4 separate regions of the Homo sapiens genome follow, and all the other regions are reported to be linked to region 2. Evidence: microRNA targets listed by miRTarBase, many of them from high-throughput screens and not tested one by one. Region 2 holds a microRNA gene; each other region holds the end of a gene's coding sequence.

Evidence for each region. Region 2 holds the annotated microRNA hsa-miR-513b-3p (AAAUGUCACCUUUUUGAGAGGA, at 2,948-2,969, opposite strand). A microRNA usually pairs through its seed, bases 2 to 8, with sites in the 3' UTR of a target mRNA and lowers its output. Matches are read on the target gene's strand: a 7mer-m8 pairs with bases 2 to 8, a 7mer-A1 pairs with bases 2 to 7 and ends in A, and an 8mer does both.
Region 1: the mRNA of JMJD1C is a reported target of hsa-miR-513b-3p. The part of its 3' UTR that is shown has no 7-base or 8-base seed match.
Region 3: miRTarBase lists RCAN2 as a target of hsa-miR-513b-3p. Seed matches in the 3' UTR shown: 7mer-m8 at 1,658-1,664.
Region 4: miRTarBase lists PLGRKT as a target of hsa-miR-513b-3p. The part of its 3' UTR that is shown has no 7-base or 8-base seed match.

Annotation. Positions count from the first base shown.
Region 1 is chr10:63,164,333-63,168,332 of GRCh38, forward strand. It overlaps JMJD1C (jumonji domain containing 1C), which reads right to left. Exons shown (of 26, transcript NM_032776.3): 26 at 2,893-3,802. The coding sequence ends at 3,713. Among named protein-coding and RNA genes, the nearest start is that of NRBF2, 33 kb to the left of the region's middle.
Region 2 is chrX:147,196,110-147,200,426 of GRCh38, forward strand. MIR513B (microRNA 513b) reads right to left here and starts at 3,018; the gene lies at 2,935-3,018. All of the region lies in intron 1 of LOC105373347 (periphilin-1), which reads left to right.
Region 3 is chr6:46,219,504-46,223,503 of GRCh38, forward strand. It overlaps RCAN2 (regulator of calcineurin 2), which reads right to left. Exons shown (of 5, transcript NM_001251974.2): 5 at 1,233-3,798. The coding sequence ends at 3,638. The region is part of intron 1 of LOC105375079 (a long non-coding RNA gene); the gene reads left to right. Among named protein-coding and RNA genes, the nearest start is that of ENPP5, 51 kb to the left of the region's middle.
Region 4 is chr9:5,354,657-5,358,656 of GRCh38, forward strand. PLGRKT (plasminogen receptor with a C-terminal lysine) reads right to left here. Exons shown (of 6, transcript NM_018465.4): 6 at 3,315-3,704. The coding sequence ends at 3,583. Among named protein-coding and RNA genes, the nearest start is that of RLN1, 17 kb to the left of the region's middle.

The sequences.
Region 1 (4,000 bases), not on the chromosome of region 2:
TTCATTGTCACTTAAAAGTCAATTAATTGTCATTAAAAGAACCAGGCTGATTACTGTGGGAGCCAAAGTACTTCACATACTACTCACATTTGCTATATTTTTATACGGTTTCAAAGCATATCTATCTAGGTTTACATAGTAATTGCATAACCAGGCCATGTCATAACTTTTGCAGTTGGAAAGGTCTGAGTCTGCATCCTGGTGACAGGCCTGGCAGCATACATAACCTTGTGTCTTGGCCAACTTGTTATCCCAATTCATACTGAATACTGTATTGAATACAGAATGATAACTAGCTGGGCGTGGTGTCCCACGCTTGTAATCCCAGCACTCTGGATGGCCAAGGTGGGCGGATCACCTGAGGTCAGGAGTTCAAGACCAGCCTTGGCCAACATGGTGAAACCCTATCCCCACTAAAAATACAAAAATTAGCTGGGCATGGTGGTGTGGGCCTGTAACTTCACCTACTTGGGAGGCTGAGGCAGGAGAATCACTTGAATCTGGGAGGCAGAGGTTGCAGGGAGCCGAGATGGTGCCACTGCACTCCAGCCTGGATGACAACAGCAAATTAGCAAACTCCGTATCAAAAACAAAAACAAAAACAAAAAACAAAAAAACCATTATATAGAATAACTAAATCACTTTTTCCTCTCCCATGGCTGACTGCTGATCTCATTTGTGAGAGCATCTTTAATAGGCTGGCATCTAGAAACAGAACATGTTGTATCAATCTATCTATGGTATACATGCACAGAGCAAAGTAAAGGTATGACAGCACTTTTCTGAAGCTTATTAATTTTACCCAGATGTTATTAAATCCATAACCCATCTACCAAGAAGGGAAGTGACAGAAAACCAGACACTGATTCGTCTGGGTATTACAGTCCCCAGATGCATGGCAGAAATGAATTTGAATGCACGTATTGATTATTCATGAAAAATCCATATTCCAGTAAAAACATTATCAATTAGGGCCAGGTGTGGTGGCTTACACTTGTAATCCCAGCACTTTGGGAGGCTGAGGTGGGAAGATCACTTGAGCTCAGGAGAGACCAGCCTTGGTAACGTAGTGAGAGAGACCTCATCTCTTCTAAATAAATAAATAAATAAATAAATAAAATAAATAAATAAATAACATTTTAAAAATCACGCCTCTAATCCCAGCACTTTGAGAGGCTGAGACTGGCAGATCATCAGGTAAGGAGTTCGAGACCAGCCTCGCCAACGTAGTGAAACCCCATCATCTCTATGAAAAATAGAAAAATTAGCCAAGTGTGGTGGCATGCACCTGTAGTCCCAGCTACTCCGGAGTCTGAGGCAGGAGAATCACTTGAACCTGGGAGGCGGAAGTTGCAGTGAGCCAAGATCACGCCATTGCACTCCAGCCTGGGTGACAGAGTGAAACTCAGTCTCCAAAAGAAAAAAAAATTAGCTGAGCACAGTGATGCGTGCCTATAGTCCCAGCTACTCGGGAGGTTGAGGCAGGAGGATCACCTGAGCCCAGGAGTTCAAGGCTACAGTGAGCTATGATTGCACCACTGCACTGCAGCCTGGGCAACAGAGCGAGAGTGTCTCAAAAAACATTATACACTAGAATGGGAAAGAACTAAAGTAAAGTATTCACCACGACTTTCCCTTTATAAAGGCTCTTTGTTGTTTCTCAAATTATTGTACACATTTAAGATAACACCATACCACCGTCTGGAGGGAGCTGACATACTCAGACATACTCCTGAGGCGCATCAGACCCAACCAAAAGGATGGAGAGAAAAAGGCCAGAGGAACTGCTCCAGTGATTAGGGAGTAATCAGCAATCAATCAACTCCCCAGCCTTCCAAAAAGCTTACAAATGTCATTAAGGATGTAAGCATTATGGTCCTCTCTCTTCACCCCAGATTTACAAGGAATTAATTAGGTCAGCAGCATGGAATTCAGACTATGGATACAATATTCTTCAGACTACGGATAGAATACTGTCATTAAGGTGGGTTTGCACTGAAACAAGCCACATTACCTGGCTTTATCTTCGTTAGCTTCAGCTATTCAGAATAAGTTGTAAATATGGTTAAAAGGTGGCTCATGCAAGAGCAAGAGAAGCAAAAGGTTTTGAGGAAAAACAATCACCACAGACTTTGGGATCCTGGCAGGCTTTAGGGGACCAGCAGGTGGTACTCTACTCCAGAATTAACACCTTGGCTTTCACTTAATTTTACATCAAAATTAAATCAGATGGAACATATGAAAGCATTAGACAAAAGCCACTTTATCAGCTGAGGCACATTTGGAAAAATGGTATTTAAAAAAGTCAAAAGCTCACCAAAGAAGGTTCACAAAATCATCTGAAATATTCCTCAGGCCAATTTTTCTTTCTAGCCAAGTAGTCATTATCCATCCCATGATAAGTATAGGTAATTAATGTGAAATGCCACATGTAGGTAATTCACATGAAATGTAATTGCTCACATTCCTGGCTGAACCTTGCCTGAAGTGGAGGGTGTTGTAACAGATTACATGGAGCTAAACGATGGTGACATAAGGAAAAACAGTATAAACTAAGCAACTTGCAAGGTGTCACAACTTGGACTCCCACTTTTTTCTTTTAAGCTGAATGCTTTCAGTTGAGAAGAAAGGCTATCCTCTCAATATCCTGCAGGTGTCAGTGGAGAGCTACATCTTTCCAGTAACTTAAAGGGTTGGGAATATGTCAGCCTTAACCAACCGACAATAGCAGCCAGCTATTAAAACCAAGACTTCAAATTAATTAAAATAACTTTCTAAGGTCATACAGTAAGTGGCAGAACTCATATTTATACCCAGGATGACTGACTTCGGGCTCTTCTCTGCCCCCAGTGTCATGCTTGTCAACAGAGGGAGTACTCTGGAAAAAGTCAATTTTTGATAAAGTCCTTTTAATGGAAAATGTAAAACCCCTTTCAACTTTAATGTACAAAGCCATATGTAACACTTGCACTTTAACAAAAGCAAGCCAATGTTTTAAAAAAATACATCATTAAATGTATATATGTATATATTTACATAGCATATTAAGTTTAATATTTAGCTTTAAAAGTTCACATAAATTTTACCAAAATGAGACAATTTTAAATAAATTACACCTTTTGAAAATGTTTAATTGTACAGTCAATAGCTTCAACAAAATATTGAAGTGTCTGTATTTAGTATCTACTTTATATACTTTATACTTTACAAATTTTACAATTATTTGGCAGTAATTTTCTGATTATGACATGACTGCTGTGCGATTCAGCAATTTCCCAGATGCAGGCAATAGCTGGTGTTTGTGTCCTATTCTCACAGTAACTGTCTCAATGTAGTGAAAAATATCAGTAATTTTAGTAAACTGTACAAGGTCACATTTACACTTGATCAACAATATAGCATAGAATTTTTTATTTTTTACCAAAAATAAATACATCATTTTAAATCTGGCATTTTCACAAACATCATATACACTATAATACAAAACAGCTATATAGTGCTGCTTTTAAAATTCTGCTTGTTTTATAACATTGAATCACAGGAGCTGTGACATATGCTATACTGCTGTGGTGTCAGTAACAAGTAATTACTACAAAGAGAATTTCTTGGCACTGATGGTTTTATGAAGCTTAAAGTCAGTGTGCATACATATCATCATTCAAGGTTAAGTAATCCCAGTTCAACAACCTAAAAATATCAAACTGGATCACACTTAATTTTCTTCCATATCCTCTACTTCATCCTCGTGTATCTTCAAGGCTCTCACCATTTCTTTGACTGCATGATACAAAATATTTTTAACCTGAAAGAGATGTTGATATTTCTAATCACTTCAGTTCGACAGAAATTAATTAAAAAATGACAACTTCCAGATTTAAAAAAATAATAGGGAACTAGGAAAGCCAAATATAAGAAAAATGTTTGAAAGTGTTAAGCCAAAAGGGACACTATAAATCATACAATTAAATACATGTTGGTGTTAATCTTTGGTTGTCACCCT
Region 2 (4,317 bases):
ACAGGAGTGTTAAATTATATGTAGTTATTTATGCTGGATATATGTTATTTATCACATTATTAAATTACATATATTTTTAGTATTCTGTAGATTGCCTTTTTATTATCTCAGTGGTCTGATTTGAAGACAAATTTTAATTTTTTCAAAGTCTATTTTATCAACTTATTTTTAATTTTACTTTTATATTTTGATATCATATATAATAATTGATAGGATGCCTATGGTATATTATCGGGGGAAAAAAGTTACTGAAAGGTAAAGAAGATTAAAAATAAATATCTATATAAATAAAAAAATATATATATATTCTGCCTTTTATTCATAAAATTTTATACTTGGACATTTTGGCCTAAAATTGTGTTATTTTCCGTATATGGTTTGAAATATGGATCGAGGTTCATATTTTTCATATATATATATATATATATCACATTTTCCAGTATCTTGTTTAAATACTATCATTTCTTCATTAGACTGACTTTACAGCTTAGTCTAAATGAATTGGTGACATATATGTATATTTCTGGTCCTTCTATTTGTCCATCCTTTCTTCAGTACCACACTATATTGGCTAATCTAGTTAGACAGTAAATCTGGAAATTACAAGTGTAAATTCTCCAACTTTGTGATTCTCTTTCAGACTCTTTTGGATATTCTAGTTTATTTGCCTTTTATATCAGTTTTAGAATCATCATGGTAATGTCTACAAATATTTTTCTGCGACATTGGTTGGAATTGCATTACCTCTAGAGATCAATAGAACTCTATAAGTCTATAGATTTGAATCCTTCGATCCATAAATATGATACTCCTCTCCACTTAATTAGGAATTATTTGATTTCCTAGTGTATTTACACTTTTAGCATACAGATGTGTTTGGTTTTCTATTGATACTGAATCAAATTGCCACAAATTTAGTTGTTTCCAACAACACAAATTTATTATATTAGGGTCTAAAGGTCAGAAATCTAAATTAGGTTTCTCTTGGCTAAAATGAAGGCATTGGCAGGGCTTTGTTCCTTCTGTTGGCTCTAGAGGAGAATCTACTTGATTGTCTTTAGAAGAAGATGCTACTTGCTTTCTCCGTTCTTTGGCTCATGGACTTTACCTCCACCTCTAGTCAATACTATAGCCTTTTCCAATGTTTCTCTTATTCTAACCGCCTTTCTCCTACTTATAAGGACCCTTGTGATAATGTTGGGCTCACCTAGATAATCTAGGATAATCCCAATCTCAAAATATTTAATTTAATCACATGCACAAATTTTCTTCTGCAATAAAATGTGTTGTTTACAAGTTCAGGGGTTACTCTGTAAACATTGTTTTGAGGGGGCTGTTATTCTGCCTACCACAGAGATCTTGTAATTTTTTTCTTAGAATTTCACCTAAATATTTTATGTTCATATTATTTTATTTTTCAATTAGCTTGATTTAATCATTTCCTAATGTACACATATATCAAAACATCATGGTGTATACCTTAAATATATACAACTTTTATGTCAGTTAAACCTTAATAAATTGGTAGAAACATGGATGAATAATACAAAACAGAATTTCTCTGAAAGAAAACATAAATACCAGTGAATATACTATTCTTTTTGAGTAAATCATAAAAGAGATACGATAACAACTAAATTTTCTTACTTTCATTTTAGGATATCACTTAAAGTTATATAAGTAACATGCTTTCACTATAATACAGTTTTAGAAACTATATACTAAGAGGAGTTATCACTTTGGAAAATTCTACGTACATACAGTATTTCAAACTGACAGAATTTTTTTACTGTTCAGAATGTTCCCCCCGACCCACACACACATACAAAGATTCTTTGTATTCTATTAGTGCAATTGTTTCATTATGGAAAAGATACATCAACAGATTTTTTTTTTTACTTTCAGTTACTAATGGTCTTACACATATTCATCCATTCTGAATCTAAAAAAAAAAACATAAACTAAAATCCTCCCTGTAACCATATAGTAATTTTTTAACAGTTTTTCCCTTTCAGTGTATATGCTGTAGCCTCTATTTCAGTTGGAATCAAAATTGTATTAATCACTTACTATTTCTAAAACATTTTTTACACATTTCCACAATATAAGTAGCTTATTTATAACCTACTTCCCAAACATGCATACTGGTTTCATGCTGCAGAAGGCATCACACAGTCTGGCGCTTGTCTCTCTCTCTCCCTCTCCCTCCTTTTCTCTCTCTCTCTCTGTGTGTGTGTGTGTGTGTGTGTGTATTTATTTCCCTCTCTCTCTCTCTCCATTGGGTTAAAAGTTAAGAAGTGTCACCAGAAGAAAATGGAGAGAGAAGCCTGGGAGACATCTCCTGAGTATCAGTTCTGTCACACCCTTTCATTCTTCAAGTGTATTCTTAAAAAATGGGGAAAAAGATAATGAAAAAGAATGAAATATTCTTGGATGGACTATGCTTAACCCATTGTAAACTGGTGACATATAGCTTTGAAAGGTAATTTAAAAGTCAATGAAAAACATTTTAGTCTTTGAGAGACAAATGGACACTGTGGATCAACAATGAAGGGACCTGAGAGGCAGGAGAGTCTTTTGGGAGCTCTAAAGGAGAAGCCTTGCAAATGATGACTAGTTGACAAGAGAGAAAAGTTTAGAGAATTTAGGAATCTGGAGTACAACCTTCCAGCTGACGAAGAATGGCTGTGGCCTCTATACAATGTATTTCTTATTTGAGCCAAGCCTCATTTGGCAAAAATAGTTAAATTCTTAAAGAACTTGAGTGCATGCGTTTTCTCAGGAGTCCACAGTTCCTATGTCTAGTCGTCTAGAAGGCACAAAAAGTTCCTTGAAGTAGCCCAGCACTGAGGAGTGGGTGCACAGGATCCAAAACAGGCATCACCATGCTCGCAGCTACAGCCCCATCCCTAGGGACACCACATATGCAGTGCATGCTGTACATTACTCCTCTCAAAAAGGTGACATTTATATTTTAGTTCACATAAATGACACCTCCTTGTGAAAGGCACTGTACACTGAATGGCTGAATGTGGCATCCCAGACCAAATGCTCCCTATTCATGCCATTTTTATTCAAGTCCCTATATAGGTGTATACATTAGCATGGCCACCAAGATTTATGCCAAGGAATTATGCAAATCCTAGCCCCCAGTGCTCCCCTTTCATCCTGCCCTGAGTGAGATTTTAACATGCAGATTTTTGTTTTATTTTGTTATAATCCCAGCCACCCAGGAGCTGAGGCAGGAGTACACCTTGACCCTGGGAGTCAGGTTTCAGTGAGAGGAGATCAGGCCACTATACTCAAGCCTGGGTTACAGAGTGAGACCCTGTCTCAAAACAAAAACAAAATGTAATAGAAAAAAAAAAAAAAAAAAAAACATAAAATTACTGGTTAAGTAGAAAGGACCAACCACTCACCAAAGCTTTCTGTTGTCCTAAACTCCAGCTGTGCTGCACACACCTAAAGTCCATCAGAAAAACCACAGAATACAACAACCTGGATGCAAAGAAGTGGAGAAGAGTCAGAGGGTAACAGGTTGGAGAGAGTAGAAATTTCATTTCTTCTTCAGGCTATGGAGCAGGAAGAACCCATAGAAATTAATACAAGATACACACAAGACAGATAATGGGCTGGAAGACAGGAAATGCTATTTTATTTCTCTTAGCTCCATGGTTCTTTATAGTTCATTTATTTGAGTGCCTGCTCACTCGCTCTGTGTGTGTGTGTGTGTGTGTGTGTGTGTTATTAAATAGTAATAGCTGTAAGATTTTTAGTTCTAAGATTCTTTGCATTAATATATTTTCCATCCTTTTACTTTTACCCAACTTTCACGTAGGTCTTCATATTTAAAATGGCTTTGTTTTAGAAAGTATATAGTTGTTTCTTATTTTTATATAAATTGACAATCTCTGTCTTAATAGAAGCATTTATATCATTTATATTAATACAATTATTTACATACATGCATTTAAATCTACTGGCTTTCTGATTGTTTTCTATGTTTCATCCTTTTCTTATTCCAAATTTTCCTCTTTTCTGCCTGATGGTGGATTTAGTATTTTTAGCATTCAGTTATATTTTCTCTACTCTTGGCGTATTAGTTAGGTCACTTTAAAAAATATAGTGGTTGCTCTAGGGTTTACAAAGTTCATATTTAATTCATCACAGTCTATCTTCAAAGAATATTATACTACTTTTTGGCTGAATAGGAACAGCTCCAGTCTGCAGCTCCCAGTGTGATCAATGCAGAAGACGGGTGATTTCTGCATTTCCAACTGAGGTACCTGGTTCATCTCATTGGGACTGGTTGGACAG
Region 3 (4,000 bases), not on the chromosome of region 2:
GGCCAGTTTTGACTTTCTTAGCTTGCTAAAAGGAGTCATATACTATGTATTTTTTTCATGTCTAGTTTTTCTTTTTTGCTCAAAATATGATTTTGCGATCTATTCATGTTCATATATGTACCACTAGTTTATGTGTCTTATTGCTTTGTGACATTCCTTTGTGTGAGGATAGCACAGTTTATTCTATAGTTGAAGGACATTTGGGCTGTATCCAGTTAATGGCTATGATGAACAACTTTGCTAGGGACATTATTGTACAAGTATTTTGATAGATGTGTGCACTTGTATCTGCTAGGTGCATGCCCTGGAGTGAATTGCTCCCAGAGGCATGTTAGCTTTAGCAGATATTACCAAACAGTGCTGTGAAGTGAGCACCAGTTGACACTCCACCAGTGGTGCATGACAGTTCCCCTTCCTTCATATCCTTACCAGAACTTTTTATTTCTCCAGACTTAATTTTAGTCATTCTGATAGATCTGTGTAGTAGCTCTGAGATTATCATTTGCTTTTGTCAGATAAGCAATAAAATTGAGCATCTTTTGAATGCTAATGGGTCATCTGGGTATTTTGTGTATGTCTGTGTGTATGTGAATTGCCTGTATGAAGTGCCTTTGAAATTTTTTGATGATCAAAGAAATGGATTGTCTGTTTTCCTTATTTGTAGGGTTTTCTTTTTACATTTTGGATATAATTTATTTTACAACTACATGTGTCTCAAATATCCTTTTCCAGTCTGATGCTGTCCCTTTTCATTCTCCTAATACCCATCTGATGAACAGAAGCTCTTCATTTTAATGGCATTTAATGTATTAATCATTTAGATTATGATAGTGCTTTTCTCCTGAATAATAATTTTTTTGCTAACTCAGGTCTCTTATAGTGCTTTTAACAAGAGAATAGAGTGGGAAGACATTAAAAGAGGTTTTTAGTACACTTGAAATGGCTTTTAGGACCAAGATGTTGAAACATGGCAATAAAACAGGGAGCTCTCCCAGTTCCTCTTATCAGAGGCCAACCCTGCCCTCCAGGCCCTGCTCAAATTCCCCTTCCCCCAAGAGAGGGCTGCCAACCAGCTTCCCCCACTTTCAGGAAGAGCCTAGGTATATGGGTTAACCCCATACGTTGGGGACTTCTTAGAAAAACTCTAGGTTGAAATGCAGTCCCCCACAATTACCCCTCAAGAATATTCAACTCAGGTCGACAACACAGAAATTAAACCACATGGACAAAGAGTCATTCACCAGATATATTTGAAGTCTAAGCTCTTTGAGCTATACACGTGCACAAATGATTCAGTTGGTGGAAATCTTCCCCTTCCCCTTCATTGTTAAAGTTTTCAAACTTAAAATAGTGCTAAAGAGATTTGCATAATGTGCGTCATGGAAATGCTGAGGCGATTCTGACTTTCACAGTGCTAGGAGGTTCCCTTGCAACACTTCAAGGAGTCTTTCCATTTCTTATCGTTCTCCTAGGAAAAGCCCCTCTTTTCCCCCCTCCCCAAACCCAACCTAGTGAAAGAATTACTTGATCTGAGACAGGTTAACATTGACACAGAGCAATAAGTTTTACTAAGACTAACTCCAGAGGCCATACACTTCATTGTGTTTCTTTTATGACTACACAGAATGGTCATTTCAACTTTTACTAAGTTGTTAAAAATGTCAGATGTGTCTTTTAAAAAACATTTAAAAATCATTTTCAAATACTTTCTCTCATCTAGATTTCTTTAGAACCTGCATTCTGGAAATTCAGGGTAGCTTAAAAAATCAAGTCAAATGACCCACAGATGATTGAGAAGAGTCAGCTTTGAAAGGCTGGATGCTGCAGTGCTCTGCATCTGAATAGCGGAGCCTACTATTTCTTCCACTAGAGGACACCATTTCTCCACTACTAAGTCTGTAGTCGTTTATCATCAATGAAAAACCAAAAACCTCCACAGCAAAGGAAAGTCAAAGCATATGCTTATTGTACACTCCTCAGATTTTATTTTTAAAAGGAGTTTTCATTTTCCTTATGGAAACTCAGGATTTTACAAGCAATGCTCTCCTCAGTTTCACCAGTACTGTGTCCAGTACTATATTGCTATATTCACAGTAAAACGGACTTTAATTTCTGAGTGATCAGTCTATGTTTTAAGTTTCTGATGAAACTAACATACACCTTAGTCAAAAACCACAACAATCCCTCAATCTGTTTGCTGTGTTATTGTTCTTGTGTGTTTTTCTGAGGCTTGGGTAATGAAAGTACTTCCCCACTCCATTGTAATCTGCGTTTGCATCTAAAGTAATTCATTAATGTACAGGAGTAGATGAGGCCTGGCACACATAGCAGAAGGTAATGGTTCTATAGGTGTATCTTCTGTAATGCACTTTGGGCTAGAGAAATAGAAAAATCACACGTAACAAAAACAAATAACTTTTTTGAGCACACGGGTGTCGCGTGAGTAGGACCGGCATACATGTAGCTATCATCCTTCCCCATTTTAACATGCTCAGCTGCTGCTGCATTCTGGGGATTTAGCTTCATCCCAATAATCTACAACTGACACTTGCATCTTTATTTAAAAACAAGTGGTCTTGATAGCAAAGATGTTGGCTAATCATGTATATATTGGCATTAGATGTTTTGTGTCCTTTCAAAATTCAGCATTATCCTTATTAGAGTGTAATATTATCAGAGTATCTGTATTAGTATATGAAGGCATTCATAAGCAATGCACATTATGTTTTGAAGCAGCTAATTGTCGAACAATCACTAAATAAAAAACATCCAGATTTTTTAAAAGCACAGCTGAAACATTTGTACAAATATACAAAGAGAGAAAACAATCATTCAGACACCATGAAACTTTTGTAATAAATAGGTTTGTCTGAAATCAGTCTCTATCACCCTGGACAAGCCTCCCCAACGAGGCTGGGAGAGTTCTACAGGGGAGTGGTGTTTGAAATCTATTGAGGAATATCTTTGGGGCCAAGGTCAATTTTGCCTCCAGGAATTTCAACAGAGCTATGGTGTATTGACTCACAATAGTGAATATACCCAGACTTGTTGAGCTGGAATATTCTGATCATTTTCCTAATCTAGATAGGACATGGCTGGATGCTGACAATCTGTGAGTTATAAGATATCCTCAAATAATGAAAATAAATGCTGGTGATCATGCATGTCCTGGGAATGTTGGGATGCAGAGGACTGAGTGAGACCAGATAGGGATATCTCATGCAGTCAAAGTCAAGTTTACATATGGTCCTATTTAAGTGGCCAGGAGAGAACAACGCACACACATCAGGACTGGGACTGAAACAGCTCACAAACAACACAGGTGCTATTTGTTACTGATGTCTCTGGCTTGGATCAACATGAGAGAACAAAGATATAGGCTGTGCTGATTGTTTAATAAGAAAATACTACTTTTTTCCCTAGAACCTTCTAAATAATGGGTTATACTTAATGGGTATGATATGATCAGGAGACATATCACCTTTTCCTAGCCCTTTTGTCCGAGAGGCTTGATAACAAGGAAGGAATCTCAAACAACCAAACACCCAGGAATTTAAAGGCAATTTTTTTTGACAAACAACAGGGGGAAAAAGCATGATAAAGAGGAGACGGCTATTATCGAGAAGGAGCAGGCAGCTCAGTTGGACACGGAGGGTGGCAGGCCAGGACGCCGAGTTTGGATGATTTTTGGCTTTGGGGAAGTCTTTGGGTCCTCTTCTTCCTCTATGTCACTGTCGCACACGTGCACGACGACACTTGGGGTGGACTCAGTCCCTGCATGGAGCTCATACTTCTCTCCTGAAAAGCAAGAAAAATGGAAGTGAGAAAGAGGGGGGGATTTCAAAAGAGATCCTGGAGCAGGGTCTGCTTAGGAAATGACAGGAGCATTTTCCAGGGTCTCAGGAAGCCTGTGATCTTATGCAGGGATGGCACAGGGTGTTGGCAAGTGGAAAGAGATCAATTTCCTCCTATCCTGGCTCTGCCACTTATCAACTGTGCA
Region 4 (4,000 bases), not on the chromosome of region 2:
TTCAGATGGCTTATATTTAGGTTACATTGGTCATAGATTATTTTTGCAATCTGTGTCTATTCCTTCTCACTTCTCTTCTAACCAATGCCCTTCTAACCCCACCCTAGGACACTTCATATGGCTCTGAGACTGAATGTGTGTGATAATTTTTTTAATTATATTTGATTTTGACTTTGACACTATTTTTTCTTGATCAGGCAGCATGTTGTATTGAAAAGAATCCTGCCAGGGATACCAAATACAAAGGTTTTAGTGTAACTACCATTACTAGATATAAAACTTTAGGTCAATCACAAAGGGCCTCAATTTTTTCAAGTGTAAGGTGAGGGCTTAGACTAGACTATTTCTAAGTGTCTTCCCTTCTTTAAAATCCTTGATCATAACTTCACTATTTGTCATTAAAACAACTTCGGCTTATGGGAACTTTCTCACAGCCTTTCCAAAGTGCAATGAGTACCACACCATAAAGGAACCTTCAACATTACCCATAAACACAAATTCAGATTGGTTGAACACCATATAAACTTGATTTATTTGTAAATTTCAGACCCTGATATGTTATTTTTGTTTAACTGGGAGAACAATTCTCTCATGTAAATGTGAATAAGAAACATTCAAAACACTTAGGTAACGCAATGTTATAAACTGCATTTTTACTATTATACAGTGATTGTCAAGAACAGTCTTTCTGTTGCAGAGAATCTCTGGATCCATATTTATATCCCTTAACTATGACAGACTCCACATATACTTAGCAGTCTCTGCATTGCTTTGGCTGAGCCAAGAATGTCTTGGGAAGAACAGAACCACATGGAGTGTAGATAAGTTTTCCTCCAACTTTATTCCTAATAATTGACAAAGAGATTGAGTGAGGTTATCATTATTTTAATCTCTAAATCTTTGTTCATAATGAAACCTGTTTCTTATCCTTCTCCTAATATACTTTCTCATATTTATTTCCTCATTCTTCTTGCAATATCACAAAAGTTTGTGATGATTATAAGCTAGTTTCTTATAGAAGACCATATAAGTTTCAGTATTTGGAAACATCAGATGTCTAGTTGGTAATTAGGGATTAATCATAAGCATAAATAAATATTTAATTAATATAAATGAAGAAATAGCTCAGAAGCATCACAGCAGAAATGTTTTTCCTTTCAACAAAAGGACAATGTAATAATGAGAGGAAAAGCTTTGGATAATCAGCAGTTATAACACTGAAAAATGTTACAACATACTTGTGCTGCATGGTCATTTTTAATAGCTCCACTTTGATTTTTGCCTCACTATACAATTGGGAGCAAACAACAGTATGAGTGTAAGTGTGTGCGTATGTTTTTCAGCAGGGCCTCTACTGAGGTAGAATTATTAATAAACTCAGTGTCAGTGCCAGAGGAAGAAGCCAAGAAGCCAATACAATTGAACAGCCTGGTGTTCTTAAGGGGGCCCAGGGCCTGGCTATGTTGCCAGCAATGAAAATCCCAGATAAGGTCTTGAGCCGATCAGCCTTTGCAGAGGCATCAAACCTACTCTTGGTGAGCTCTGGCTAGACTATATCAGGAACATTTGAATAGCATGATTGAATTGTGGGGAAAGAAATACAATTCCAGATTCTGGTGTGACCTACAACCAGCACTAGGTCTTGGGCATTCATGAGTCCACCAGTGTTCCTCCCAGTACTTCTTCTTTCCCATGTTCTCTAGGGGCCTTAGATAATCCACACAGATTAAAAATGCAGGGAAAACAACTCCCACTCTGTGACCTCAAACTGGTTTCCTGGTACTGCTATTCTCTATTTTCATAATCTTGAGTCCATTCCCAAGGCTGTAGCCTTAATTCAGGCCACTGGTCAGCACTCAGATGGATCATTGCAGCTCCTCATTACTTGGGATCTGGGATCTTTCCCCTCTAATCTACAAATTTGGGTAAAAATCCCGTTTTGCATTCTTTCACTGCTATCACCCTCAGGAAAGAGTCCAAACTGCTTGCTGTTACATCCAAGGCTCTTCAGGAATTGAATTGTACTTCCACCAGGATCATTTCTGAAAAAGTCTCCCACATGAGGAACCCCTTGCTGCAGCCAAATTGAATGACCTGCAGCAATTCCTTGGATTTGGCTTGCACGGTCCTGCCTTTGTTCAAGCTGCTTCTCCTGCTTGGGGCACCCTTCCTCTTCAATGTTTACCTTCATGGAGAACTTCTATGCATCCTTCAAGACTTGGCTCAAGTTTCTCTAAAGCTAAAATTGTAACAAAACACATGTTGATACGTTGTCAGCTCCTTGAAGGTAGGGACCACATCATATTCATGCTTGTTCCTACCTTAATATTTAATCTCCTATTATTCTTCCTGGGCTTCTTTCTATTATTTGGCCATGCCATGTCTCAGTTCAAATGTCACCTCTGCAAAGAGGCAGTGTCTGCAGTACCGATCTAAAGTAGCACCACCTCATTAACCCAATCATTCTCTTATCACTCTGTTTCATTTCCACTGAAGCATTTGCCAGGATTAGAAATGATCTTATTTATCTTGATGTTAATTTGTTGCCCGCCCCAATTATCCCACCCCTCACTAGAATATATTCCTCTGCCCAGGATATAGGACATTGTCTACTTATTCACCGATGTAGCTCTAGTGTCTACAACAGTGCCTGGCACAAAGTAGTATCAATAAATCTCTTTGGAATGAGCATATTATATGTAGGGTTCGCATCTGAAGAAATACTTATATATAGGAGTATTTTATGAGGAGTTTTCCCAGTGAGTCTAAATAAAAAGGCAGTCATCCAAATCTACCTCTCTCTTGTTTCCACCTCTCTAGCAACTATGCCCTGAGTCATTATTTGAATGTTGTTACCTTTTCCCTTTTATAGCTTTTCTTTGCAGGTTAAGCATCAGTTAAGGCCTTGTCAAGGCCTTTTAGAGCACAGCCACTGGAGCCACACTTGTTCAAATCCAAGCCCTGGCCAAGTATGGCTTTGGCCCAGCCAAATTGGATGACCTGCAGCAACTTCTTGGATTTGGCTTGCGTGCTTCTGCCTTTGTTCAAGCTGCTTATCTGTGCTTCAGTTTCCACATTTATAAAATGATTCCTGCTTCATAAAATTATTGGGATGATTACAAGAATTTGTACAAAACACTCAGAACAGTGCCAGTCATAGAAAATGCAGTATATATGTTAGTCAAACAATACTGTTTTCTGTCATGTAGGGGCAGGACACAATTGACAAATCCAAAATACAGAAGCATCTGTGGAAATGGAATGTGGTATGGAAAGTATGTGTGACAGAGAAATGAGAGCAGCTGGGCATTTGCTTCCAGGAATTCAAAACAATTTATTAATTTTACACTTAGATATTGGTAATGCACACAGAGAGAGGAAATCTAAAAGTTATTTAGAGCACCTCCATGATTTTGTGTTGAATGTTATAAATTTTATTTTAAAATAGCTCAAAACTATCTTGCATTTTAATATTTTAAAATAAAATCTATAATATCAAAATCTTGAGCATTTAAAAAACTGTAAAAACCATGATTCAAGTCAATAATTCTGTGCTTTGAGATTTGATTGGTAAGCATGATTTCATTTGTCTATGAAGAATCTACTCTGTTCCTTTCTGGCTTTTTCAATGCTTTCAAAAGTGATCATTCCTCTTGGCAGCTGCAATTTACTCTTTTCTGTTTCCAGTATGTCCTCAGCTTCACCTTAAATAAAGTACAGAAATACACAAGGTGACAAAGGGGTCATCAGCAATTTGTGACAAAGCCTGATTGCTATATTCCTTGACAGGCTCTAACACCGTATGAGCCATGTCCCCAATCTCACACTTAAACATTTTCCTCAGGAGAAGTAATATACTTCCCAGAGGAAACACAGTGATGAATTCTGAACACCCATAAATAAATCAGGAGCTACAGATGGTATTTTTGACATGTAGAAGAGAAAGAACATCAAGATAAGTAATTTTTTCCCTTGAACCAAAGTCAGGATTCGTATTAAT